Homo sapiens: one gene and its partners. The protein of the gene in region 1 purifies or fractionates together with the protein of each later gene. This does not show direct contact. Each region holds a gene or a part of one and is shown on either strand. Other genes may lie near its edges.

The links.
Region 2: the proteins of GNS (region 1) and CLPX purify together in Homo sapiens (affinity purification with mass spectrometry; 2 studies listed by BioGRID and IntAct, with this or other methods). This does not show direct contact.
Region 3: the proteins of GNS (region 1) and SUMF1 purify together in Homo sapiens (affinity purification with mass spectrometry; 2 studies listed by BioGRID and IntAct, with this or other methods). This does not show direct contact.
Region 4: the proteins of GNS (region 1) and ENGASE purify together in Homo sapiens (affinity purification with mass spectrometry; 2 studies listed by BioGRID and IntAct, with this or other methods). This does not show direct contact.

The regions. Positions count from the first base shown.
Region 1 is NC_000012.12:64,756,400-64,763,660, forward strand, and holds the start of GNS (N-acetylglucosamine-6-sulfatase precursor), read right to left. Parts: upstream 3,008-7,261; 5' UTR 2,878-3,007; coding exon 2,686-2,877; intron 1-2,685. UniProt on the Homo sapiens protein: Hydrolyzes 6-sulfate groups in N-acetyl-d-glucosaminide units of heparin sulfate and keratan sulfate.
Region 2 is NC_000015.10:65,182,320-65,189,401, forward strand, and holds the start of CLPX (ATP-dependent clpX-like chaperone, mitochondrial precursor), read right to left. Parts: upstream 3,024-7,082; 5' UTR 2,835-3,023; coding exon 2,756-2,834; intron 1-2,755. UniProt on the Homo sapiens protein: ATP-dependent chaperone that functions as an unfoldase.
Region 3 is NC_000003.12:4,457,264-4,464,286, forward strand, and holds part of SUMF1 (formylglycine-generating enzyme isoform 1 precursor), read right to left. Parts: intron 1-7,023.
Region 4 is NC_000017.11:79,070,124-79,077,832, reverse strand, and holds the start of ENGASE (cytosolic endo-beta-N-acetylglucosaminidase), read right to left. Parts: upstream 3,010-7,709; 5' UTR 2,889-3,009; coding exon 2,743-2,888; intron 404-2,742; coding exon 336-403; intron 171-335; coding exon 1-170. UniProt on the Homo sapiens protein: Endoglycosidase that releases N-glycans from glycoproteins by cleaving the beta-1,4-glycosidic bond in the N,N'-diacetylchitobiose core. Involved in the processing of free oligosaccharides in the cytosol.

The DNA of each region.
Region 1 (7,261 bases):
ACCTGCAGACTCTCTGACCTATGGTGTGATTATGCTGGTGTGGGTATGTGGAATGAAATCTGATTATTATCACAGTATTCTAGAATAGGAGAAAAAGCATGGTGATCTGAGGTCATAAGATACCCAGGCTTTGTCCAATATTAGCTATATGAACTTAGTCATGTCACTTAACCACCTTCCAGTTTTAGTTTCCTTTTAAGATAAGGATACTATGTACAGCAGAGGACTCCTGTGATGACTGAAGCACAAGTATAAAAATCCTCATACTCTGCTCGGCTCCAAGTAAGTTCTCAAATGCTCTTGTCCTAGCTCTTCCCCTTGGAGTCCTGTTTGACAATTAGTGGTAGAATATTCTGAAAAAGCCTAGAAGAGAAGCCAGAATTCTTGAGTTTGGAACATTAAGTTTGACTTATGCCCTCCACTCAATTTTGGTACCTCTCTCCAGTAGAAACACTTATTAAAAAAAAGAATCTGGGCCGAGACAGTGGCTCATGCCTGTAATCCCAGCACTTTGGGAGGCTGAGGTCCAGGAGTTCAAGAGTTCAGGAGTTCAAGAGTTACTTGAGTCCAGGAGTTCAAGACCGACTTGGGCAACATGGAGAAATCCTGTCTTTACAAAATATTTAAAAATTAGCTGGACGTAGTGACATGTGCCTGTAGTTCCAGCTACTAGGGAGACTGAGGCAGGAGGACTGCTTGAGACTAGGAGTTCAAGGCTGCAATGAGCCTTGATTGTACCACTGCACTCCAGCCTGGATGACAGAGCAAGACCCTGACTCAAAAAATCTGCTACTGGCTTAACGAAGCAAATTGGATTAACATACTAAAGAGACCTCAAATACACACAGACTACAGCTGTGGTTTATAAGAATTGAAGAAACAACTCTGAATACCTTATATTTAAGTAATCAATTTTGTTTTCAACACCTAAAAAAGCCTGACCTTTTAACTGAGTACTTAAGTCACTGCTAGAGAAGGCTTGCTTTTTCTGGACAAAACACTCTTCAAGGACACATTTTCTTTTTTTTAATAAAAAAGGAATTTTGTGAGCAGACAAGTAAGTGCAGTAGTTGGAAGAGTAGTGAACCTAAAGTGTAGGAGGAAAATTAAATTAAGACCAATGTCAACATGGCTTGGTAGAAACTAACAGACAATGAAGCATATATGGCAGGAAGAAATGTGTAGTCAAAATGCAAGCCTCTTAAAACATCAGCTATAAAAGACTCTCAAGCTCTTGAGCATCAACCTAAGAAATATATTTTACAACTCGGGAAGAAAGAGAGATAGATAATGATTACCTTTATCAAGTGTAACACACACACTCACACACATGGACCTTTTCTATTCTATTCTATTCCAGAGGAAATAAAAAATGTTGGTAGTTACTCACTAAACTGATTTCATAACTCACTCAAGGGTTGGGACCAGAGGTTTGAAGGACACTGAGCTAGGGTGTGTAACTACACAAGAAAAGTTAGGAACGTCTTGCCTGGAGTATTTCATAGTCTCAGCATTCAGCTGAAAGCAAAAAGAGAACTGAAACGAAGAAAGCAATAAAGCATTTGGTTTTAAAGCGAAGAGAGGAATGCTGAACCCAGGGTCAGAGGACTCTGCCTCAACTACTCATGTCTTGGGCAAGTTGCTTTCTGGGCCTCCATGGGGAAGGGGTTGGAGTGGATGTTTCCAAAGGTCACACATTCCATAATTCTGCAATACACAAGCAAAATTTACTCTGGAAAAAAAATGAAGTCTTGTGACAACACCCATTAGATAGAAAATGAAACACTGACAGTCTCTAATGCAACAGTCAGGTGTTCAATCACACTAATTGAATTTTCTTGATTCTTGTGAGGCAACACACACCCTCAATAGTTCGACGGTCGGCCTACCAGATTAGTTCACTTCAGGCCTTTTTTTTTTTTTTTTTTTTTTTTTTTTTTTGGAGACGGAGTCTCGCTCTGTCGCCAGGCTGGAATGCAGTGGCGCGATCTCGGCTCACTGCAACTGCTGCCTCCCGGGTTCAAGCGATTCTCCTTCCTCAGCCTCCCAAGTAGCTGGGACTACAGCTGCGCGCCACCACGCCCAGCTAGAATTATTGTATTTCTAGTAGAGACGGGGTTTCACCATGTTGGCCAGGATGGTCTCGATCTCTTGACCTTCTGATCCGCCCGCCTCGGCCTCCCAAAGTGCTGGGATTACATGAGTGACACACCGCGCCCGGCCCAGGCTTATTTTTATTGACATCAGATACAGACATTGTATACAGGCACAAACGTGGAGGTGGTCTAGGTCCCTCATAAAGGGGACTGGACTTGTCTGTGATCCTCTAATCCAAAAGAAAAACAATCAGGCCTTGAGTGCTCTTAGACAGCACCTGATCCTCATTGGTTCAACCCATCCTCCACTGGTCTCCACATGTTTATCTTGAGATATTAACGTAAACTCCACAGCAGTACGGTCCAGACTAGAAGCTCTGTGTGCTGTACGCATGTGCCTCAATCCAGAAAGGAAAAGAGTATTGCAGTCCCTTACACCGGCATAAAGGGCCTCAGGTGGGAAAACCAAACCTACCCAAGGATAAGACAGCCAGTTCGGGGAGGAGGGTGGTGGGGACCGGGAAAGAGAGCAACAAACCGGGTAGTCAGCCCAAGAGATAGAGGGGCGGGGCAGAAACAGAAGAGTTACCATGCCGCCGAGCACTTCGTCCTGGTCGTCCGTGAGGAGCAGCACCACGTTGGGCCTCCGGGTTCCCGCAGCCACCCCGAAGACCCCCAGGCAGCCGCCCAGCACCAGCAGTAGCAGCGCTGGGCTGCAGGAGGGCAGGTGGCGGGGGCTGCCCCGCCGGAGCCGACCTGGGGCTAGAGGCAGGAGCCGCATAGCGGACAGGCTCCGGGGTGACCCCGGGACGGGACGGGACGGAGGGACGCACAGGTAGCTGAAGGGCGAGAGGCCGACCAGCCGAAGGAATAAAAAGCCGTGCCTTGAAGGCCGGTGGCTGGAGTCAGACGTTTTCTCCCTAGGCGCGATCACGTGAGCCAGGGACAGGGGGCGGAGCACGCTGCGCGGTCACGTGACGGCCGGCGTGGGCGGGGCTGCGGACTGGCGCAGCCTGGAGGGAGGCATCAGGCAGTGGCGGAAAAGGGGCGGAGAACCGGAGAAAAGGGCGGAGAACCGGAGAAAAGGGCGGAGAACCGGAGAAAAGGGCGGAGAACCGGGAAAAGGGCGGAGAACCGGGAAAAGGTCAAGACCTGTACGTACCTCTCGCGCAGGCTCGGGTTGCGTTCTGGTAGGACGTACGTGTTTCTGAGCGCTTGGTGGAAAGATTTAAATGGGGGGAAGAGAAGATGAAAAGCAGGAAAGAGTTGGCAAATACTAACCAACCGATAAAGGAAGAGAAAGGAGGACTGTACATAACAGAAATTATCATCAGCTGGTGAGGAAAGTGGACTCTACCATATTTAATCCCCAAGTCGACGGGCACTTATTCAAGGCCCGGATGTTTAATCGTTTTTAATTTTCTCTACAACTTGTGAGATAAATCTTAACATTCTCATTTGGCTCAGACATTAAATTCGGAACTGGTTAGCTCTCTTAACTCCAAAGCCTAATTATGTTCTTCTTTCCTCAGCAGACATCGTAGTTTCAAACAATTTAGGGATGTCCTGACAGCTTTATCCTAATGGTTATCCTAATGGTCCTTGGTGACTTTTTAAACACCCTCTTGGAACATGTTGGAGGATGTGCAGATCGAACAAAAATCTTGAAACGTGGTCATCCAACTGCATTATTAAGTAATCTTTAGCGGGGAATAGCCCTTGAAACTAGCTCCAGATATTTCTGTGGTCGCTCTGGAATAATTAGACTTTGCCCCTCTCCTCTCACCGCCCACCGTGGGCGCGGTGGCTCACGCTTGTAATCCCAGCACTTTGGGAGGCGGGTGGATCACCTGAGGTCAGGAGTTTTAGACCAGCCTGGCCAACGTGGGGAAACCCCGTCTCTACTAAAATACAAAAATTAGCTGGGCGTGGTGGCAGGCGCCTGTAATCCCAGCTACTCGGGAGGCTGAGGCATGAGAATCGCTTGAACCCGGGAGGCGGAGCTTGCAGTGAGCCACTGCACTCTGGCCTCAGGGACAGAGCGAGACTCTTGTCTCAAAACAAACAAACAAACAAAAAATCACAGAGATATTCCTGGCAAGGTGAACTGTCAAGTCACATCCCCAGACCGATATAACAAGGTATACCTCCTTGCTGGTAAAAGTATTTTCTCTGAGTTGAACTGTTTGCCAAGAAGAGTCTCTTAAAACTCGTGAAAACTATTCCAGAACTTAAAGTATTAAAAAAAAAAACTCGTGAAAACACTATACTATAAGGTAAAAATAATGATGGAAACACGTTGAAACCTGATGTGTACAAGGATAGGGCTTATGCAAAAAAAAAAAAATTACCTTTATTACTTTGTTTTTTTCACACAGAGGGGTAATGCGCGGAGTCCTAACAAGGTTTGAGGTAGGGGTGGTAACTCACACAATAGCATGAAAACCCAATCATCAGGCTTATGAACCACAAAAGGATCTTAATACTTTTTTTTTTTAAGTAAGCCTACAGAAGGCAAAAGAAGCTTTAAAAAAACTGAAGTAGTTTTTCTGCAAGAAACAATTATGCCGGAAGTGTGGTCAGAGCAGTTCCTAGACAACCAGAATACTTGGTTACAGCCTTGGCCTAGGCCAATTTTTCAAGCTGGTTAGAATAACTAATCCTTCTGTATTCAGGTTTCAAGACTTCCAGGAAGACTTTCTTGCACAAAAAAATAACCTATTTCATCTGTATCGAAGCCCCAAATTGTAAAATTGTTTCTTTTCTATTTTTTTCAAGGTTAGATTATAAACTATTTGAGGCCAGAAATTGTGTAATTAGTTGCCCACTTTGTTCAGGATGCTGCTGTCAGAGGCGATTGAACCAGAGCAACTCCATCTTGAAAAGGGGCTGAGTAAAATAAGCCTGAGGCCTGCTATGCTGCATTCCCAGATGGTTATGCATTCTAAGTCACAGGATGAGATAGGAGGTCATAAAGATACAAGATACAAGATGCATGTCATAAAGACCTTACTGATGAAACAGGTAGCAGTAAAGAAGCCGACTAAAACCCACCAAAACCAAGATGGTGATGAAAGTGACCTCTGGTCGTCCTCACTGCTAAATTCCCACCCAGCGCCATGACAGTTTACAAACGCCATGGGAATGTCAGGAAGGTACCCTCTCTGGTCTAAAAAGGGGAGGCATGAATAATCCATCCCTTGTTTAGCATATCATCAAGAAATAACCATAAAAATGGGCAACGAGTAGCCCTCGGGCTGCTCTGCCTATGGAGTAGCCATTCTTTTATTCCTCTACTTTCTTAATAAACTTTCTTTCACTTTACTCTATGGTCTTGTCCTGAATTCTTCCTTGCTCGAGATCCAAGAACCCTTTCTTGATGTCTGGATCAGGACCCCTTTCCGGTAACACTGCTACACTAGTGCTGAAGAGACATTGTCCCTCGTTCATGGAATTTGCAGTCTAATGGCAGAGAGATGGACAATCTAATCTTGTATCTTGTATATGATTACAAATAGACATGCTATGAAGGAAAAGTAAAGGGTGCAATGAGCATTTAAGGTGGTGGGAGGCTGATTTAGTCTAAGGTGCCCTGAGGAAGTGATCTTTGAGTGAAATCTGAAGTTTGAGTAGGAGATAATTTGTTAATGGAGTATTGGGGTGGTGGAATGTCTCCTAAGCACAGAGTACAGCATATGCAAAGGTTCTGAGCTGGTGCATTGCAATAACTAAAAGAAGCCAGTGTGGTTAGAGCAGAGGGAGAGAGGTGGTGAGGACCCAGATCCTATTTTAAGGACTTGGGTTTTTATAGTAAGGCTAATTGGAAATTACTGAAAGAATGTAAGATAAATATAATCATACATGAACTTTTAGAAGATCCTTTAGACTGTGGCATGAAGAACAGATTGGAAGAGGACAAGCATGGGTGAGGGTAGACCAATTAGGTAGAGAGAAAAGTGGATAACAGGGACAGATTCAAATTTTGTGGGGCCTGAAGTTTATGTGCATTTGGCGAGTGGAGGCTCCTTAAGAAAAAGAATAACAATTTTAGATACAAAAGTAGGTACACAACTGAATATGTATTTAGACTAAAACAAAATATAACGTTATAAATTTTTAAAAGTTGAAAAATATTACAAATAATGCAAAAATTTAACGTAACATATTTTTATTAAGTAACTGCCAGGCATACTTCTTCATACTTTTTTCCCCTTACATTATATGGCTATGTGCTCTTTAATCATCTCTTCATATGATGTTAGTTTATAATATTTTCTAAAGAAAATAGAAAGATAATTTAGTTTTTTCTCTAGTGTGTTTGATCAGTATTTGCCTTTTATTGGTGATAATTCAGAAAAATTATTTTTCACCTCAGTTCATTATTGGTTTTATATATATGTTTAGTATTTTTGTCAAATTTCAGAAAACTCTATCAAATATCCTCTTAACATAGGCATTTCGTGACATTCTGCATTTTATTTTGTATTATTTTATTTTTTGAGATGGAGTCTTGATCTGTCTGCGCTCTTGGCTCACTGCAACCTCCACGTCCCAGGTTCAAGCAATTCTCCTGCCTCAGCCTCCTGAGTAGCTGGGATTACAGGCATGCGTCACTATGCCCGGCTAATTTTTGTATTTTTAGTAGAGATGGGGTTTCGCCATGTTGGCCAGGCTGGTCTCGAACTCCTGACTTCAGGTGATCTACCCGCCTCAGCCTCCCAAAGTGCTGGGATTATAGGCGTGAGTTTTATGTTATCTTCCTCAATGCTAGTGTGAGATCAAATCGAAAGAAATTTGAATATTTTTCAATGAGTTTATATAATTCACAAGTTGTCAATTTAATAGCCTATTTATTACTTTCATTTGCAGTTTATCTCTTCCTCTTTCCAGCTTTATTGAGATATAATTGACAACAAAATTATGTGTATTTAAGGTGTACAACATGATGTTTTCATATACGTATAGAGTGTGAAATGATTATTCTCTTCCTCTTAATGAATTACTGTTTTTCTTATGATTTAAACTTTTTTTGGTTACTCTTTACTTCTTAATGTCAGGATAATTTCTCTTTACTTTCTCATTCATCTTTATCACTTTGGTTTTGTATCCTATTAATTTTTTTTTTTTTTTTTGAGACAGAGTCTTGCTCTGTCACCAGGCTAGAG
Region 2 (7,082 bases), on another chromosome or scaffold:
TTCTCAGAATAATATTTTTAAATGTATAAAATAAAATACATAACAAAGGAAACAAATTATAATGAAGTAGTTATCAAAAAATTTTTAAAATATGCCTCTTTATTAACAAGCAAAATTAAATAAGATCTAACAGCTTTTTAAATAATTACTATGATTTCAAAGTAGCAAAAAGTATGGACAATATTCTGAAATATCAGCAACTATAATGTGATATGAAAATATTTCTGATTTTGATTGATGACAAATCCACAGACACTTCTAAGACTACTGTGGATGTGTTGCCCACATTCATAGGCCAAGGAAACGTTGTGTTTCAGTTAGAGCTTAGTGAAAATAAAGTTCACAGAATCTCTGAATTCTATTCAAGGACCCTTTGGAGGCCTGTAAACCCCAGGTGAAGCTCTGAAAGCCAAAAAAGAGAAGTGTTTCTGTAAAGTATATTTCACCAGATTACCTGGCAGCAACCAGAAAAGACAATTTAAGTTTCACTATTTACAGAACTTTATCATACAGACAAAGCTTTCTAAATTTCAGAACAACTGTTTTTAAAAAGAAATACTAGTCCGGGTGCGGTGGCTCAAGCCTGTAATCCTAGCACTTTGGGAGGCCAAGGCGGGTGATCTCCTGGGGTCCAGGAGTTGGAGTCCAGCCTGACGAACATGGCAAAATCCCGTCTCTACTAAAAATATAAAAATTAGTGGGGCGTGGTGGCGCGCGCCTGTAACCCCAGCTTACTCAGGAGGCTGAGGCAGAAGAATTGCTTGAACCCAGGAGACGGAGGTTGCAGTGAGCCGAGATCGCGCTACTGCACTCCAGCCCGGGCAACTTAGCAGATTCCATCAAGACAGACACACAAAAAGAGGCCAGGCGCGGTGGCTCACGCCTGTAATCCCAGCACTTTGGGAGGCCGAGGCGGACGGATCACAAGATCAGGAGATCGAGACCATCCTGGCTAACACGGTGAAACCCCGTCTCTACTAAAAATACAAAAATTAGCCAGGCGTGGTGGCGGGCGCCTGCAGTCCCAGCTACTCGGGAGGCTGAGGCAGGAGAATGGCGTGAACCCAGGAGGCGGAGTTTGCAGTAAACTGAGATCTGGCCACTGCACTCCAGCCTGAGCGACAGAGCGAGACTCTGTCTCAAAAAAAAAAAAAAAAAAAAAAGAAAGAAAATAAGACAGACAGAAAGACAGATAGTAGATGGAAAGAAAGACAGAAAGGAAAGAAAGACAGGAAGGAAGGAAAGGAAGGAAGGAAGGAAGGAGAAAAGAAAAGAAAAAGAAAGAAAACAGTCGTTTTGAAAAGAAAAAAAAATAACTGCCTATCTCCTATGATTCAAAAATGTTCACGGACTCTTGGCTACAAGAGATCAGTAACACTTTCAAAGAAGCCGTCCCTGACCAAAGGGAACACACACATACTTCATCCACCCACTGGAAACTGTATTATTCTTTGTCTACTCCACTAGATTTAAACATGAGGGTGAGGACTTATTCACCACTCTACCTCCAGCACTAAAAGAAGGCCTGACACACAGTGGACCCTTGACAAATATTAATATATATCAGATAAATGGATTAAAATATGTCACTTTAAAGTGTTTGCAAATCGAATTCCTGGAATCGGGACATCTACTGGTTGAGGCTTAACATCGATTTAGGATTAAATTTACTCCCTTACATTTATATATCATTTTACAAAATGCTTCTGCCCACGTTACCTCATTCAATCCTTCCTTCTGTAGTAAAGAAACTGGAAGATATATTTAGTAAACAATAAGGATTTTATAATTGGCTTAGAAGTTAGATAAAAGGGGCCTTTTTAAAAATCCATCCAAGGGTCATAAACCGATAAGCCAAAATAAAACGAATTTGTCTAGAAGTCAGTCATTATAACAGGATCTAGCCTCGTGGTCTGACTTCCACAGATTTGAGGAAGAGAAAAAAAGTTTATTTTCCAGACTCTCTTGGCTGGGGCGCCATTCTTTCACAGCTTCAGATAAACAGAAAGAAAAGGTAAACAACATGCGCCACTCTTAGGAAACTACCTCCCGGTCAAGTTGGGAAAGCCAGCAAAGGACTGCTGAAACACCCAAGTACTTCCGAACCAACTCCTGCGGGACTTCTCCCCATCTCTCCCGCCGCTGTCCTGCGGGCCCCGGGGCTTGCCTGACGCCGGGAAGTATTGTGAACCTTGTTTATGTCCCAGTGTCAGGGCCGCACAGTGATAGTAACATCTCGGGTATCGCGCGGCTTGCGTCCGGGACGGCCAGCTGGGTGCCCCGAGTCCTGGGGGACCCTAGTAGGGACAGATCCTCAGCCGAGCCCCTCCTGGAGCCCCCAACGGGCCCGAGGGGGATCCCGGCCAGGCTGCGGAAGAAGAGCCGCAGCCATGGCAGGCGGCGGTCCCCGGCAGGGCTGAGTGGGATCTGGAGACATTTTTTAATAACAGGAGCATTTTGTGCCTTTCAGGGTTTCTACAAAGTGGCCGCATTCCGGCCCCAAAGTCAGCAGGCCTGAAAGCGTGCAGGCAGGCGCGTGGGAAGGAGTTTACTTCCAATTTGAGCAACGGCTGCTCCAGAGGTTGGCAGAGCCCCATTCCACGGGGAAAGTGGTGGGTGCCGGGCGAAGCGCCGCGCATTCCCTCACACTCCCCGGGTGCAGCAGGCCTCGTGCCCTCCCCGGGGCCCCCAACCATTGGCCAGTCCACCCCCCCCCCGACAGGCTGAGGGCTCAGGAGTGGCACTATTTCGTTACCTCTCTGCGCGGAGGCGAGTGAGGAGGTGATGAGCCGGACGGCCGCCGCGCCGCAAGTACAAGCACCGCAGCTGGGCATCTCCGCGAGGCCTAGGCCGGGGCTTCGCCCCCTGAGGACCTCCGGGTCACAGCGGCGTGAATCCTGCCCGCAAGGCGCGCTGACTCGGTTCCGAACCCTTTCGCGGGCCCTAGACCCCGTGGAGAGTTCACCTGCCCGGCAGCCAGGCCTTCACGCTTCTCTGCCCCACAGCCGTCTATTCACCAGAGTAGACACCCAACCCCCCCCTCCCTTCCCCTCCTTCTCCTTCTACCCCCACCCCCAGCCTACTGGGCCCGGGGAGCTTGCGCGCGCCTGCGCCCTAGGCCCGGGGAGGGGGCGGAGGGCGTGGGCACGCGCCGTGTTTGCGAGCTGGTGAAGCTACGTGAGGCGAAGGCGAGGGGGTGGTGCCCTGGGCGCCAATGAGTTCCCTACGGCAAGCGTCTAGCCCCAACTGGGGCGACTACAGGTCCCGACGCTCAAGGTTGCCAAAAGCCCTTTTATCCTAAAGTTGAAAGGTTTTGCGATAGACGCGGAGAGATGCATGCCGGGACTTGTAGTCCCGAGTCGTCATAGTCGAGCTCTTCCGGTCACTTTTAGTGGGCGGCAGGGAAGGTCAAGGTGAGGCTGGTGGCTTAACCCTCCAGGGGGAAGTCTCTAAAGTGCCTTGGTAGGCGCTGGATGCTTCAGATTCACTAAATTTCTTCCCCCGGAATTCCACATCCTGTGTTCCTTATCTTCTCATTCTCCTTAGTTTCATCACTTGTAACATGGAGTTGGTATTGTCAGTTAGTTCCCTGAGCAGCAATTGTTAGTTGGTAACAGCTCCGTCTCCTTGTTCTTTCAGGCCTCGTGGTGATAAAGCTTCTAGCTGTTGCTAGTCCGTGGGTGCTTTAAAGTCTTGAGGGTTTTCTTTTCTTTCTTTCTTTTTTTTAATTTAGTAAAGATGAGGTCTCCCTATGTTGCCCAGGCTGGTCTCAAACTCCTGGGCTCAAGTGATCCTCTCGCCTCGCCCTCCCAAAGTGCTGGGATTACAGGCGTGAGCCACCGCACCCGGCCGTGATTAAGGATGGCACTGCATAGATAACCTCTGGTCAGGTTCCTATCAGGCCATCCTCTCAAGTTATGAATTCAAAAGCACAGAGCCGGCTGGGCGTGGTGGCTCACACCTGTAATCCCAGCACTTTGGGAGGCCGAGGCAGGTGGATCACGAGGTCAGGAGTTTGCGACCAGCCTGACCCACATGGTGAAACCCCATCTCTACTAAAAATACAAAAATTAGGTAGGTGTGGTGGCGTACTCCTGTAATCCCAGCTACTCAGGAGGCTGAGGTGGGAGAATTGCTTGAACCCAGGAGGCGAAGGTTGCAGTGAGCCGATATCGTGCCATTGCACTCCAGCCTGGGCGACAGAGCGAGACTCCGTCTCAAAAAAAAAAAAAAAAAACCCAGAGCCATCTGAGATTATCCCTGTGAGAAAATGGATCCTTCACCAGGAAAGTGATGGCAAATACTTGTGGTCACATCAGCCCTTCCACATCACACCTACTTTCAGCTGTTTTCTGACAGATTAATGACGCTTTAAAAAGAAAGTCAAGTGCAGTTTTCCAGCTCAAATAGTTTACACTGGAGGAGTTAACTCCTTGAGTTATTTACTTTTTGCGAACTACATAGCTGAAGGCACATAACTTTTTTTTTGAGACAGAGTCTCCATCTGTCACCCAGGCTGAAGTGCAGTGGCACCATCTCAGCTCACTGCAACCTCTGCCTCCTGGGTTCAAGTGATTCTCCTGCCTCAGCCTCCTGAGTAGCTGGGATTACAGGCATGCGTCACCATGCCCGGTTAATTTTTGTATTTTTAGTAGAGGCAGAGTTTCACTATGTTGGCCGTGTTAGTTTCAAACCCCTGACCTCAAGTGATCCGCCTGCCTCAGCCTCCCAAAGTGCTGGGATTACAGGCATGAGCCATTGCACCCAGTCAGGCACATAACTTTTTATGTCTTCATTTTATGTAAAACTTTTTCTTTTGTCTTTTTTTTTTTTTTTTTTTTGAGATGGAGTCTCACTCTGTGGCCAGGCTGGAGCGCAGTGGTGCGATCCTGGCTCACTGTAACCTCTGGCTCCTCGGTTCAAGCGATTCTCCTACCTCAGCCTCCTGAGTAGCTGGGACTACAGGCGCACACCACCACGCCCAGCTAGTTTTTGTATTTTTAGTAGAGACGGGGTTTCACCATGTTGGCCAGGATGGTTTTGATCTATTGACCTCATGATCCGCCTGCCTTGGCCTCCCAAAGTGTTGGGATTACAGGTGTGAGCCACCATGCAGGCCCTCTTTTTCTTTTATACTTGATTTTACCTCCCAGCATTATGAGTTGCTATAAGAAATATTTTAATAAATTAGAGTCCATGAGTCTTAACTCACTCAATATTAACCCTGATTTTTTTAGATGAGGAAACAGGCCTATTGAAAAGGCAGATACTTGACCAGGGTCACATAACAAGTGAAAAACAGAGAATAGAGCTGGAGTCTTCTGGCTTTAAAACTGTATTTCTCAAGCTTTTCTTTTTTAACCCAAGACTCTTTTCGATAAACATAAAAATCTCACTTCTCGGCCAGGCGCAGTTTCTCACGCCTGTAATCCCAGCACTTTGGGAGGCCAAGGCAGGTGGATCACCTGAGGTCAGGAGTTCCAGACTGGCCTGGCCAACATGGTGAAACCCCGTCTCTACTAAAAATACAAAAATTAGCCGGGTGTGGTGGCGCACGCCTGTGATCCCAGCTACTCGGGAGGCTAAGGCAGGAGAATCGCTTGAACCTGGGAGGCAGAGGTTGCAGTGAGCTGAGATCGTGACAATGCACTCCAGCCTGGGTGACAAAGCAAGTCTCCATCTCAACAACAACAACAAAAAATCTCGCTTCTCCTCTCCTCCACCAGAAATTCTGGCACATCTTCTCAGAGAGTCATCATTCTTTTGGGAATCTTTGTATCCTCTGAATAAAGACTTTTTTTTTCATGGCCAAACCCTGCTCCTTCATATCAGCAGACATTGATTATCCCTGGAAGGATATAAATATAAATATTGAGGAACTCAGTATTTTAAAAGATAAGGACCTGCATCTGTAGGTGGTGCGAACTCAAGATAATATTAACACATCGTATTGAACTTTATAACTTACAAAGGGTTTTCACATCCACTTTCTCATTTGATTATTACAACAACCAAATGATATATTGTTATTATCAGCATTCCAGTTTTGAAGCTGAGAAAATCAAGACACAGAGAGTTTAAGTGACTTGCCCAAGGTCACAGCAGAACCCAGACTTAAATCCAAATCACCATATGGGTTTCCATTACTTCTCTATATCTTATTCCAAAAGCTGATGAGATTTTAGGGGTCTGCAGAATCTCTACCCCCTACCCAGGAACATCTCACATCAAGGAATAAAAATCTGCCCTCCTATTAAGGAAGTGACCCACCATCTTTCCTTTACTTAAGAATTACTTTGGTTGTAGCCGGGCGCGGTGGCTCAGGCCTGTAGTCCCAGCACTTTGGAGGCTGAGGCTGGCGGATCACGAGGTCAGGAGTTCAAGACCAGCCTGGCCAACCTGGTGAACCCCGTCTCTAAAAATACAAAAATTAGCTGGGCACAGTGATGTGTGCCTGTAGTCCCAGCTACTCAGGAAGCTGAGGCAGGAAAATCGCTTGAACCTGGGAAGCGGAGGTTGCAGTGAGCCGAGATCATGCCACTGCACTCCAGCCTGGGCAGCAAAGTGAGACTCTGGCTCAAAAAAAAAAAAAAAAAAAGAATTACTTTGGTTGTTTGTTAAAATACATTAGGCCCCTCTCCTAAAGATTTTGACAAAATAGTCTGGAGGAGGGCTCAGGAATCTGTTTTTATTGCTGGATGCTAGAATCAGGAGATGCTAAGATTTATTTGCAGAAATGATATGTTTCCACTGTGCTGATAGAAGTCTGGACCTTTTTTTCTCAAGGTCTCTTTTAGGCTCCTTCCAACTGCTACTACTTTCTTCCTCAGGGAGTCACTGCCCAACCTTGGTATTGTAGGGTGACCAAGAGGACTACAGCGAGGCGCTCATCATTTTCCTGGGCCTGCCCTTGGGGGCTGGAGGTAACCTTAGATAGCATGAGATCCCCCTTGTCCTCAATTAGACTGCCTCTTGTTCCTCATCCTGATGTTCAGGGAGATGGTCAGCAGATGGTGCTAACTTACCACCCTTCCCTCTGAATCCTTTGGGGGCATTCTTAAAATTAATCCAGTGGAACTTTC
Region 3 (7,023 bases), on another chromosome or scaffold:
AAACTATCTGAAAAAGATATTAAGAAATTAATCCCAGGCCAGGATTCAATGTAATTTCTATCAAATGTAATTCCTATCAAATGTAATTCCTATCAAAATTCTAATGTCATTTTTCAAGGAAATAGAAAAAAAAATCCTAAAATTTGTACAGCACAACAAAAGACCCCAAAGAGCGAAAGCAATTTTGAGCAAAAAGAACAAAGGTGGAGTACCACACTATCTGACTTCAAAATATACTACAAACCTAATCAAATGGCATGGTACTGGCATAAAAGCTAACACAAAAACCAATGGAACAGGATAGAGAGTCCAGAAATAAACTCATGCATTTACCATCATCTGATTTTCAACAAAGGCACCAAGAACACACAATGGAGAAAGGACAATCTTTCAATAAACGGTATTAGGAAAACTGAATATCCACATGTAGAAGAATGAAATTAGACCCTTATCTCACAGCATATACAAAAATCAACTCAAACTGTATTAAAGACTTAAATGTACAGTCTGAAACTGTAAAACTACTAGAAGAAAACATTGGGAAAAGAAGCTCCATGACACAGGCCTGGCAAAGATTTCTTGGACTTGACCCCAAAAGCACAGGCAACAAAAGCAAAAATAAACAAATAGGATTGTATCAAACCAAAAGGCTTCTGTATGGCAAAGGAAACAACAGAGTGAAGAGATATCCCAGAATGAGTGAAAATCTTTGCAAACCATGCATCTTATATGGAGTTAATATTCAAAATATATAAGGAATTCAAATCAATAGCAAGAAAACAAAGAACTCAATTTAAAAATGGGCAAAGGACCCGAATAGACATTGCTCAAAAGACATACAAATGGCCAACAGATATAAGAAAAAATGCTCTTCACAACTAATTACCAGGAAAATGCAAATTAAAACCACAATGGGCTATCTCCTCACACCTGTTAGAATAGCTATCATCAAAAAGATGAAAGATAACAAGTGTTGGAGAAGATGTAGAGAAAAAGGAACTCTACTGCAGTTGGTGAGAATGTAAATTAATACAGTGATTATGGAAAACAATATGGAGGTTCCTCAGAAATCTGCAAACAGAATTACCATATGATCCAGCTATCCCACTTCTGGGTATATGGCCAAAGGAAATAAAACCAGTATGCTGAAAAAATATCTACACTCCCAAATTCATGGCAGCATTATTCACAATAGCTAAGATACAGAAGCAACCTAGATGTCCCTTATCATATAAATGGATAAAGAAAATGTTTATATATACATATATATATAAATGTCAGAATACTTTTTAGCCTTAAAAAGAAAACTCGGCCAGGTGCGGAGGCTCACGCCTGTAATCCCAGCACTTTGGGAGGCCGAGGCAAGGGGATCATGAGGTCAGGAGATCAAGACCATCCTGGCTAACACGGTGAAATCCCGTCTCCACTAAAAATACAAAAACTTAGCCAGGCGTTGGTGGCGGGCGCCTGTAGTCCCAGCTACTCCGGAGGCTGAGGCAGGAGAATGGCGTGAACCTGGGAGGCGGAGCTTGCAGCGAGCCGAGATGGAGCCACTGCACTCCAGCCTGGGCAACAGAGCTAGATTCCGTCTCAAGAGAAAAAAAAAGAAGAAAACTCTGTCATTTATGACAGCATGGATGAACCTAGTGGACAGTATGCTATGTGAAATGAGCCAAGCACAAAATGACAAATGCCTTGATGATCTCACTCATATGTGAAATCTAAAAAAGTTGAACTAATTGAAGTAGAATGGTGGTTATCAGAGGCTGGGGGAGAGGGGAAGATGGGGAAAGGAAAGATGTTGATCAGACGGTACAAAATTTCAGTTAGATAGAAGAAATTAGCTTTAGTGATGTATTGCACAGAGTGGTGACTATAATAAGTAATGCATTATATATTTCGCAATTATTAAAAAATAGATTTTAAATGTTTCCACCACACAAAAAATATAAGTATGTGAGCTGATGGATTTGTTAATTAGCTTGATTTACTCATTCCACAATGTAAACATATATCAAAACATCACGTTGTACCCCACAAATTATTATAAAATTATTTGTCAATTAAAAATAAAATTTTAAAAAACAAGGGCTCAAATTAGAAAGGGGAAAAAAAAGAAGTCAAGGAGAGATGGACTAGTTGGAAAAAAAGAGAGTCACTTAGCAATACGGGCAGAAGCATTAGAAAAATAACATCAGAAGAAACAGAAATTAGGAATCCACAGTCATTGATTCTACTTTCCATTTCTACTGGCTTTCCTTGCTGGTGGCTGCTTTGATTCTATGCGTGTACTTCCCAATAAAAATGGTGCTGTTTTCATTTATGATAAATTAGTAATAAATGTGTTTTTATTTGTCTAATGTATTACTACTATCCCAAGAAATCAACCTTGACTACTCACATCCCCTACTCCCAATATTACACAGGCCACCTAGTCTCACTAGATTTCCTAAATATGTATCTCTCTAATCTCTCCCTCTTTTCTACCCCCAGATAACTGCAGAACCCTTGTAATTGGTGTTCCTGTCTTCAGTCTCCTTTCACATCCCCACCTGCTTCCAAGTCATCTATCTTCCATTCAATAATTCATTCAACAAATATTTAAGCCCCTACTAATCCTTCTGAAAATGTTAGTCTACTGTACCCAATGCAATTTTCCAACTGAAAAGGGCTGGAAACAATCTAAATGTCCATCAATAGCAGGCTCATTTTAAGTAAATTGTGGGCCTTCAATAAAATGGAAAATTAAGCAGCCATAGGAAAGAAAAAAGAAGAGGGGGATAAAAAAGGATGCTTTTGATATATTGATATGGAAAGATCTCACCATGATGAGCTACAAGAACAAAGCAAGGTGCACAAATGCTAAGTATGGTATGCTGTCATTAGCGTGAAAGTAGGTTGAGGGATACAGGTACACTATTTTTGTATTTACTTATATTTGCAGAACATAGCTCTGAGGAAATATATAAGAAATGCATGCAGTGGTTGTCTGAGGGGAAAGTTACTGGGTAAATGAGAAATTGTTCACTATATACTCTTCTATATGTTTTTAAATTTTTAAACCACGTAAATATACTACCTGTTTTAAAAAATAAAGTGTCAATCTGACCATACTACTTTCCTACTTAAAACTGTCAGGAATTCCTATCGCCTTTCAGAATAACATATATAAACATCAGAGCTCATCTCTCACACTCTCTCTTGCCCTGTCTTTCACCCGCATTTCCATAAACCACTTTGTCTCTTGGTAAATATTGTCATGGTTCAAGGATCAGCTCCTCCAGGAGGCCTTTCCTGCCTGCATATCCCTCTAGCTCATGTGCCCTCACACACACAGTGTGTGTGTGTGTGTGTGTGTGTGAGAGTGTGTGTGTGTATATATATACATATATATATATATATATTTTTTAAGAGATGGAGTCCCACTCTGTCACCCCACGCTGGAGTGCAGAGGCGTGATCACAGCTCACAGCACCCTTGATCGTCTGGTCTCAAGCAACTCTCCCACCTCAGCCTCTACGCAGCTGGCACTACAGGTGAACACCAACACACCCTGCTAATTTTTTTTTTTAGTAGACACGAGGTCTTGTTATGTTGCCCAGGCTAGTCTCCAACTTCTGAGTTCAAGTGATACTCCTGCTTCAGCCTCCCAAAGTGCTGGGCTTACAGGCATGAGCCACCGCATCCCACCCAAAGTATCTTAATTCTGTGTTTTCATCTTCCCTAGAACCTAGGCTCTTTGAGGACCAGAAATGAATCTTTTATTTCTATATCCCCACTGCCTAGCATGGTGCATGGTCCACAGCAGACACAAAAATCTTTACCAATTGAATGAGGTCATGACTGTAATGAGGAATTTATCATTTGAATTATGCATAATTATAAAAATGCTATTTAATTTATAACAGTTCTAGACATGCATAACATGTCAACATCACAGTGAAACCTGTCTAACAGATGTAGGTCAAGGACCGAACTAGGTTGTCCATTATTCTCACTATACTCTAAGTGCTGGGACACAAGATAACCCAGTCCTAAAAGGAGAAATCAACATTTTAAGCAGCTCTACAAAGAAGTAGAAAAATTGAAGACATCAGACAAAAGTTTCAAGAGCAGTCTTAAAATGATTAAGAGGCTCTAATAAGAGATTTCATAAAAGACTTAAAGAAAAAGCTTTCCTGTGGCAAATACTTCCTGTTAGGAGAACAGTTGCTCATCCCTCAGCTCAAAGGACCACAGGAAGCTGTGCCCATTGTACCTAATGAACTTTTACAATTATCTAACTTTTCTCATCTTCTTCTCCCTCAAGGTGAGTACCAACAATGCTAATGCAATCATGACTTCCATGTGAACTTCCGGCCGAGTTTTTTTTTTTTCCTTCTTTCATTAACCATCAGAGATAGCCAGTGCTGAATAAGCCAAGTTTCCATTCTGGAGACTATAGATAAAAATAGCCTGGATCACTCTGAGTGGATCATAATTTCTCATTTATACTAATGAAATAAAGTTTTCTGTCCTACAAATGTCAAATGTCATTCAAGTGAAAACCAGAGAACCAAGTGTCTCACTCTGTAGGATCCAAAGCCACATAAAAAGGACCATTTTAGTCAACTCTTCACTGAAGGTTCAAATTCAAACAATCCATATCTCCTCCAATCTGAAGGTGAGATAACCCCTTCCCTGCCACACCACAGCTTCTGCCACTGCCACTCAAGCCAGAAGCATAAGTGAAGTAAAGAATGACTCTATTATTCATTGGAATAACAGAACCATATGTGGGCTACACACTTAGGCCATGTGCAGTGGGCACTGCTATTTTGGTCCATCCGGCACCCAATCCCTCTACTTCTTGTAAAATACTGAAGTTCCTTTCCAAAACCATTTCTTAAGCTTTCTAAGTGGCCCAGGGGTACTGGATGACTCTATCCTACTTCCCAACCCCCACCAAGCCTGGCCAACCATAGCATTCTTTTGACCACGGAGATGTAATTAGGGATAGGCCCAAGACCCAATCAAAGTTCATCTTTGAACTTTTGCTGGAGCTACCAGGAAAGAACTTTTTCTCTTCTAGTTATCTTATCAGTAGGAGAAGGGACATTACCTGACAATGGAGCCGACTATGCAGAAGAGCCAAGAGATAGCCAAAGAGAAAGGCCTTGGAGATGCTGCCTGAGGCCCTGTATCCAGGTGTGTCTGGGGCCATATTTACTCTTGAACTTCCCAACTAGGGGAGCTATAAATGTCCCTTCCAGTTTTTTCCTGCTTAAGCCAGTCTTGTCTTTTTTTCACTTGCTACCGTAAGATTTTTGTCTTGTACACAAAAATAGAATCAGCTCATACGTAACTTTTTTGTGTAACTTCTCCTTTTCCTTCTTTCCTCTCCTCAACCTTAACATTAAAAGCTAAAGGCTCTTGTTCTGAGTCCCCTCTAATAAAAAATAAAATAAAATAAGCTAAAGGTTCATGAGAAAGCTGGGTGAATAAGAGAAGCATGCTCTCTGGATCTGTCCACAAACTCCTGCCTTATCTATCTATACAGGGCTTATTTATCTATACCATTCTGTCACCCTCCTGCCTCTACAGACAGACACTAATCATAGATGAAATGACATTCAAAGTTTCTTGCAGTTCTGAGCTATATGATTCCTTTAAGCCTCAGTTGCCTCATCTGTAAAGTGGGAGATGATCTCTCTCACAGGATTCTTAGGAGGATGAATACAGCAAAAGAATACTTTACAAATGTTTCTTGAAAAAGTATGTGACCTTCTCTATTCCCAAGGCAGTTTCTCAATACTGTATCCACCAAAAAAGGAAACACAGGTCATTCAAGAAATTATTACAGAATGCCTAAAATGTATAAGGCACGTGGGGGATATAGAGATTAAAACATCTAAAAATGCTTCCAATGTAGAATATCAGACAACTACAAAACTAGCACTACATTAGGGCTGGGCGCGGTGGCTCACGCCTGTAATCCCAGCACTTTGGGAGGCAGAGGCAGGTGGATCACGAAGTCAAAAGATCGAGACAATCCTGGCCAACGTGGTAAAACCCCGTCTCTACTAAAAATACAAAAATTGGCCAGGCGTGGTGGCAGGTGCCTGTAGTCCCAGCTACTTGGGAGGCTGAGGCAGGAGAATCATTTGAACCCAGTAGGCAGAGGTTGCAATGAGCCGAGATTGCACCACTGCACTCCAGCCTGGGTGACAGAGCGAGACTCCGTCTCAAAAACAAAACAAAACAAAACAAAAAAACACTAGCACCATATTGAAGAAAATATACAAGTTGTCATCAAACAACAACAAAATAAGCTATGGGAACTGAGAGGATAGAAAAACTACTTCTTTGTAGGAGGTGGAAAGGTTTCATGGAAGAGACGGCATTCGATTGTGCCTCATTGCCCAGGGAAGCATTACCAGTCAGAAACCTCCTCAGACAGGAAATCAAGACTGACTTTATCCATATGTACAGACATGCCACCTACAATCTTAGCATCCCATGATCCTAAATGCCTTTCAAATAACTCTTCTAAAAGATAAAAGCAGACTAAAACATTTTGCTTCCTTGTTACAAAATCATAACCCACGCAGAAAACTATTAGGATAATTTTCTCAATGAGAATCATATTTTTATAACCAGAGGGAATACACATTAAATTTTTAAACATCTATATTGTTTCCCAGACAATTCTAATCGCCATAACTTTCTAGTGAAACTGAAAATTTCTTGAGGGCAAAGCCCAGTGTTATTTCTCTGTGCCCCTCACCTTGCCACACACACTCATTGTATGAATACACAAAAACAAAAAAAGACTCATCTAAAAAGTGTTACATTAAAAAGTGTGAACATGTCACTCCCAGATCTTAAATCACTTATGTTTCCCAGCACACACCACGCATTTCCACAATGTGCCATGTGTTGATACTATTCTCCTTCTTGGAATGTCCTTGAATCTGGAATTCCATTCCCAGCTCCGAAAAATATTTCCTCCAAGGCCTAGCTCAAATGTGGCCTTTTTTTTTT
Region 4 (7,709 bases), on another chromosome or scaffold:
ACACAACAAAGTCCGGGGCCTCTGGCTGCTCAGAGGGGGCTGGCGACACGCCAGGGGCTCCAGGGCCACATTAAAGCCATCCTCCAAGCGGGGCTTCCACGCCAAGAGCTCCTCCAGCGAAGACAAGTAAAAGCTGATTGGTTTGGTGGTGTCCTTGTCATAATATCTAACTGGTCCGAGGACAGAAACATTGAGCAATTAATGGAAACTATTATAGGATTAATCGAAACATTTTAACAATAACAGAGAAGGAACATGAGAGGGGGCAGGGGCTGACCTGCCCCAAAGCCCCAGGTGTGAAGGTGGATCGGTATTCAGAGCCTCTGTCTCCTCACCTGGCAGGGGGTCCGGGGAAAAACTGACCACCTCTCGAAAGACTGTCTCTTCTTCTTCATCTTTGATGCTAAGCAAAGAGGGAGTTGTACATTTATAAATAAAAACATAAATAGGTAAGAACACTTAGAAGCAAATGGACCAGTTTCATCTAAACACAGAGAGATATTCTCTGCCTTATGTTGTTTAATATTAACTATAGAAACATTGTATAAAGCAAGGAAGTGCCCTGTGATAATCCTAAGGTTTTACCTATATTAGCAACCAGGGCTTGGCTTCCACATGGACACACGTACCAATGATTACTCCTAAGAATAAACCTTACCCTAGGCCAGACGCAGTGGTTCACGCCTGTAATCCCAACACTTTGGGAAGCCAAGGCAGGCGAATCACCTGAGGTCAGGAGTTAAAGACCAGCCTGGCCAACATGGCAAAACCCCATCTCTACTAATACAAAAATTAGCTGGGCATGGTGGCACACGCCTGTAATCCCAGCACCTTGGGAGGCTGAGGCAGGGAGAATCACTTGAACCTGGGAGGCGAAGGTTGCAGTGAGCCGGGACTGTGCCACTACACTCCAACTTGGGCAACAGAACGAGACTCCATCTCAAAAAAATAAATAAATAGAATAAACCTTACCCTCTAAAGCAGCCACCCCAATACCACAAAGACCAGACATAAATACTTCACAGGGTCCCCAGGATTTTCTATGGCCAAGGGGCAATATCCAAATACCCAAAGCACCAGAAAGTTTCAGGTCCTAAGAGAGCAGAGACCAGGCTTCCTCTATAGGCCACACTTCCCTAAGTGCCTTCCGCGCTGTTCATGGATGTATGTTACAGGGAGAAAGAGTTCCTTCGTTCCTTCGGTACATTAACATGGAAAGCTCCTAAATACATCTCAAACCACTTTCTTTTAAAAATTGATTGATTAATTGAGACAGAGTCTCGCTCTGTCGCCCAGGCTGGAGTAAGGTGGTGAAATCTCAGCTCACTGCAACCTCCAGTTCCTGGGTTCAAGTGAGTCTCCTGCCTCAGCCTCCCAAGTAGCTGGGATTACAGGCATCTGCCACCACGCCTGACTAATTTTGTACTTTTAGTAGAGACTGAGTTTCACCATGTTGGCCAGGCTGGTCTCAAACTCCCGAACTCAGGTGATCACACGCCTCAGCCTCCCAAGTGCTGAGATTACAGGCATAAGCCACCATGCCTGGCCTAAAAAATCATTATTATTTTAGGAGCAGTAAGAAGACACCGCAGTGGCTATTTAGAGGCCATGGCACCAACGTTGAGATTCCCTAAATCTACCAACGCCCAAGGCCACTTCTTTGTTCACTGAGTTGTCATCTGCCATCACTCCACTGCCATTCAGAGGCCTGTTGCAAAGAGTCCTCTGTAGCATCTGCCATCACCAAACACTGACCCAGGGCCTCCAGAATGACATTGGGAGACCCTGAGAACTGCAGGGGTCGGGGACGGATTCAAGCAGAGATGCCGCAGTTGTTCCTCTCCACCTTCCTTTTCCAAAGCCCCCTTCCTCGTTGATGTCCTTATTATACTTCAGCCACCCCCTCCCAGACCTTCTCAGAACAATCCCACACCAGGTCACCTTTGTCACCTGTCATTCCTCCACTAGGAGGGAAAGAGCCATCTCCACATTCCTCCTGTCCAAAAATATCTTTCCCAGCAGCCAGCCTTCATCCCATCTTCATGAGGTCTGAAATGCTCAGCAGTCTCACTGCTTTGGGTTTAGAAACAAAGCTACGGCTGCTGTTTCCGGAAGCCATGTCTGTGCTCCTAACTTCTCCCCCTGCAACCTACTGAGGGGGAGTTTACCGGGTGGGCAAGTGCCCCCCAAAGGAAGGAAGCCCAGCCCAGAGGGGCATGTTCGTCCCTTTCTGTCTCTGTGCTTTGGCCCTTTCTGTTCCCCGCCAGTTGGATACCCTACTCCCTATTCTCCACCTACTGAAGGCTTCCTCCTCCCCAAAGACTCAGTTCTAGTGTCACCCCTACAGAAGGCCACCCCTTCCACCAGCCGGCATCCACTGAGCCAGGCATGAGCACCGCCGCCGGGATCTTCCGCATAGACCAGCGACGTGGGAAGCAGGGGTCTGGCCGGGGCGTCGGGATTCCCGCTGGGCCCCGCGGCCACTCGGGTTTGCACCCGTATTTCTGAGATAGGCAGGGGTCACGCACGGGGGCCGGAGGCCGCTGCCCGGCAGTGGCGCGAGGACGGCGGGGCGGACCGGGGCGGAGGGGCGCTGCCACCCTCTGTCCCTTACTGTGCACGGAGCGGACACAGGCGCCGGCCCCCCGCCCCTCGGCGCGCCCGTGCCGGGAAACCTCGGGCCCCGGGGCCACGGACTCTCAGCCCCGCGGATCGGGGTTCACGCGGGCCCCGCAGCCCCACCTCCTTCCCGGCCGCCGCCGCCGCGGCCGCGGCTCCTGATCCTCCTGCTCCTCCTGCGTCCCCGCCTCCGGGGCCGCCAGCCCCTGCAGCTGCCGCCGCCGCCGCCGTGTAGCCGACCGGGTGACCGTCACCGCCGCGGCCTCCATGACACTGTCCGCGCACGCCGAGAGGCAATCGCAGGCCCGGGCCCGCCCCCGCGCCGCGCTCGGCCAATGGGAAGTGCGCAGCGCTGACGCCGCGCTGGGACGGGACTCCGAGCTGACTCCCGGCCAGCGGCCGCGCGGCGGGGACTTTGTTGAGGCGACAGGCCGGGGGCGGGGCCGAGGACGGGGCGGGGCTGTGAGGGGCGGGGCCTGGGCGAGTTCCGAGCCCAGGGTTCGTCGTCGTTCTTGTTGTTGCCCATCATTGGCTATGAGTCCAGGGTGCTAGAAGGCTCTAGAAGGCTTCGGAACGCCCCAATCTTAGAGTTCTCTCTTTAGCCTCACCAGCTTCCTTTGTCAAGCAAACCGAGGTTTATCCCAGAGAGATTAAGCAATCTCCCAGAGGGCACAAAGTCAGCAAATGGTGGCAATGAGATTTTAACTCATGCAGCTAACCCCTATTAAAAGATAATTTTCAGACCGGGCGCGGTGACTCACGTCTGCGATTCCAGCACTTTGGGAGGCCGAGGCGGGCGGATCACCTGAAGTCAGGAGTTCGAGACTACCCTGGCCAACATGGTGAAACCCCGTCTCTACTTAAAATACAAAAATTAGCCGGGCGTGGTGGTGCATGCCTGTAATCCCAGCTACCTGAGAGGCTGAGACTGGAGAATCGCTGGAACCCGGGAGGCAGAGGCTGCAATGAGCCGAGACGGTGCCATTGCACTCCAGCCTGGGCGACAGAGGGAGACTCCGTCTCAAAAAAAAAAAAAAAAAGATGAAAGGTTAGTAGGTTAGTATCGGGCCATGTGGAAGCTGGTGTCCTATGTAGGATGCATAGTTTTCCAGTGAAACACGGATTTCTTTCTACAGCCCCACGCCTGTGCCCAACAGTAGTAGTTGCTCTACCCCTAAGCGTGCAGGGCCTGGAGTGGCACCTCTGCAAGAGTGGCACTGCCCAGCGTCTTAGGCACAAAAGGAGTTCACAGGAAACATGATAGAACAGAGCCCTGAGAAGCCAGAACTCAAGGCTGGGCCCCACAGGGCAAACCAAGGCTCTCCTCCCTCCAGGCCCCAACGCCCCTCCACAGCTAGGAGCTTCCAGTGCTGGGCTGCAGCTGCCGCCCAAGCCAAGTTGACTGGGCCTTTATTATTGTTGCAGACTTTGAACTTTATGAGGCTCCAAGCTTCCATAAACGCCAATGGTGGGAACTATGACTAAGGTTGTTGAATATGGGCCATGGTGCAGGCCAGCCAGTTAGGCAGGAAGGACGGGCCACTCAGAAGCAGGACACGCTGACCCATGGGGAGGACAGAGAAGGCAGAGGGCTCCTCTTTGGGGCTTCAGTCCTGGGAAGCTTACAGTGAGCGAGGGCAGTGGATCCCCAAGTTCCCTCCTGCTGTGTTCAGGGGTGCACCGGACGTGGACAGTCTTGATCTGGGGTGCATGTAACCAGGTGTTCCCAAGCCCTCACCTGCAGCTTAGCAATAAAAATAGATAAACTTTCATCCTACCCAGGTTAGAACACAGTTCTAAGGGATACTTTGAACAGCCTTTGGGTAATGCTCAGTCTCTGGGAGAAAATATGCCCAAACCTCCCTTTTCTTCTCTCCTTTCCAAAGAGTAGGCACCTGGTCTAGAAGAGCAAGAAAGTGAAGGCAGCCTTGCACGCCCCTGAGGACAGAAAGGACTTAGGCCTTGTGGCCTCTTGTTAGCCCCTGTGGCTCGTGGTCTCTCTGGATGTCAGGCCAAGCCTGGAGGGGCCCTGTCTGCCTTGAGCTCACATTGGCTCATACTGGGGCTCTGGATCCGTTTGAGGCCTGAGTGGGCCCTCTAAAACCCTAACCTTCTGGTGTTTTCAGATAACATACAGAGCAATCAGTTAAATTTGAATTCCAAATAAATGATGCCTGGGACATAGGACAAGCTTATATTAAAAAGTTATTGCATATTTATCTAAAATTCAAACTGAACTAGGATGCTGTCTATGCATTTGCTAAATCTGGCATCCCTACCTGTGAATCTGAACTACAGCCTCGGCAGAGCCACCCTGCCCTGTTACAGGGGCCCCTCTGACACCTCCCTGCAGGCTCTTGGCTGTCCTGGGCTCTGCCCACACCAGTACTGGTTGGTTTGGGACAGCTGAGCCTCGGGTCTCCCTGCCTGACCATGCTGTCCCATCAGCTTCCTGTTGCAGGTCGTGACGCAGTGCATGCACTTGCCTCTGCACCCCCCCTCGCCATGCCCAGAGCGCCCGGAGTGGGGACCTAGAGTCACACCTGCTTGCTCTGCCTTCCTCTGCCTCCTCCTTCATGGCCTCCGGGGGAGCCGGAAATGAGAATCAGGTGAGTGGACACCACCTGGTCCCCGGGCTTGGTTGCTGATATGCTGAAGAGTGTGGCAGGAACTAATTGTCCCCAATATTCCTTCCGAGCCTGTCCTTTAGGAACGGAAGCCCCACGTTTTTGCTGACTACATGGTAGCCCAGATGAAGACAGCATTCCCCAGAGGCAGAACTTAGACCTTCCACGTGTACTTACTTACAAGTAAGCTGTGGTTTATGAAACAAGAAACAAAGTGAGAAGTGCAATTCTGGTTGTGCCTGCAAAACAAAGGGGGCATTGCCCTCCACCTTTCCTTCCTGGCTTCTCTTGGTCGCCAGCTGGGTGCAAGGATGTGATGGCAGGAACTGCAGCAACCATCTGAGACCATGAGATGAAAGCCACTTGTGGAAGGGCTGGGAGGGGCCTAGGTCCCCAACAGCAAGACTAGTGTTGCCCTGGACTGCTTATGTCTGGACTTTTTTTTTTTTTGAGACAGAGTCTCACTCTCATCCAGGCTGGAGCTCAGTGGCGTGATCTCCGCACACTAACTGCAACCTCCAGCTCCCGGGTTCAAGCGATTCTCCTGCCTCAGCCTCCCAAGTAGCTGGGATTACAGGCGCCCACCATCACGCCTGGTAATTTTTTGTATTTTCGGTGGAGACAGGGTTTCACCATGTTGGCCAGGCTAGTCTCGAACTCCCACCTCAGTCTCCTGAATAGCTGGGAGTACAGGCGCCCACCACCACGCCAGGCTAATTTTTTTTTTTTTTCTTTGAGATGGAGTCTTGCTCTGTCATCAGGCTGATCTGCCCACCTCAGCCTCCCAAAATGCTGGAATTGCAGGCATGAGCCACTGCTCCCGGCCAGCCCAGACTCTTAAATGACAGAAATACCCTTCTGTCTTATTTAAGCCAATACTCTGTTGGTGTTTTTACAGTAGCTAAATCTAACTAAGATGAGTGGGATAAATCCTGGAATTTAGACAAACCTCTCAAAACAGCAGCCTGCTTGCAAGGCTGGTATCTTTTTTTGTCATTCAAAATCTTCTTACCTTGTTCGTTGTCACTGCATTCCTTCTGCAATAAATCTCACTGTCCCTTCATTCAGATACATGTCTCAGACCAGCTGGAGGAAAAACAAAAAGCACAATGTAAAACTTTCAAGGCTGGACGCAGTGGCTCACGCCTGTAATCTCATCACTTTGGGAGGCCAAGGCAGGAGGACTGATTGCTTGAGCAGGCTTGGAAACCAGCCTGGGCAACATGGAGAAACCCCATCTCTCCAAAAAAATATGAAAAATTAGCCTGGGCCAGGCACGGTGGCTCATGCCTGTAATCCTAGCACTTTGGGAGGTAGAGGTGGGCAGATCACTTGAGGTCAGGAGATCGAGACCATTCTGGCCAAACATGGTGAAACCCAGTCTCTACTGAAATACAAAAAATTAGCCGGGCATGGTGGCATGCACCTGTAGTCCCAGCTACTTGGGAGACTGAGGCAGGGGAATCGCTTGAACCTGAGAGGCAGAGGTTGCAGTGAGCCACGATCATGCCACTGCACTCCAGCCTGACAACACAGCAAGAGTCCATCTCAAACAAACAAACAAAAAATTAGCCAGGTGGTGGCATGCGCCTGTACTCCCAGCTACTCAGGAGGCTGAGGTAGGAGGATCACTTGAGCCCCGGGAGTCGAGGCTGCAGTGAACCATGATTGTGCCACTGCACCTCCATCCCGGGCAACAGATTGAGACCCTGTCTCAAAAAAAAAAAAAAAAAAAAAAGGAAGAAAGAGTAAGAATAACTTTTCAACTGTCACTCCCTTTCTCCTTGGTACTCAGTAAAGGCTTAATGAATGAAAGAAAGCTGTGGCTATGGCTGGCCTCTGGCTCCAGCCCCCCGACTCACCTTTATACCCACTGGAGGCTGCACCCAGGTACCTGCTCGAAAGTCCTGCCTGCCTGCACGCCTCTGTCTGTGAACACACACTCACTCCTCAACAATACATTGACACTACCTGGGATGCCTGCCCTGCCCATTTTCCCTTGTGTTATTATTGCAATTGCACAAGTGTTTGTTAAACAAAAATTATGGGAACCCATTATTTTGGACTGAGCTCCTACACTAGGCTCCAACAGACCACAGCAAAGCAAGATGGAGTCACTCATGCTAAACGCCACATATCATCAAACCGAACCCTTAAGGAAGCAGATAGATCCCAAACAGACAAGTTTTTCCTGAAAACAGGAGATTCCAGTCTACTTAAGTCAGTGTGATAAGGAAGTCCCCTCTGCTTTAACCTTTACCAAAGGAGGTAACACGATGGTGACCAATTGACGTTTTTCCCGTGGTTCCGTTTCCTTGTTCCCATCTCACAAAAGCCGCTGTCTGCCGTTGGCCAATGGAAGCTCTTACTCCATGTTGTAGAAGGGAAGCTGCCCCGATTCATGAATCTCAAATAAAAGCCAATTAGATTTATAACTAAATGTGTTATAATTTTGTCTTTTGA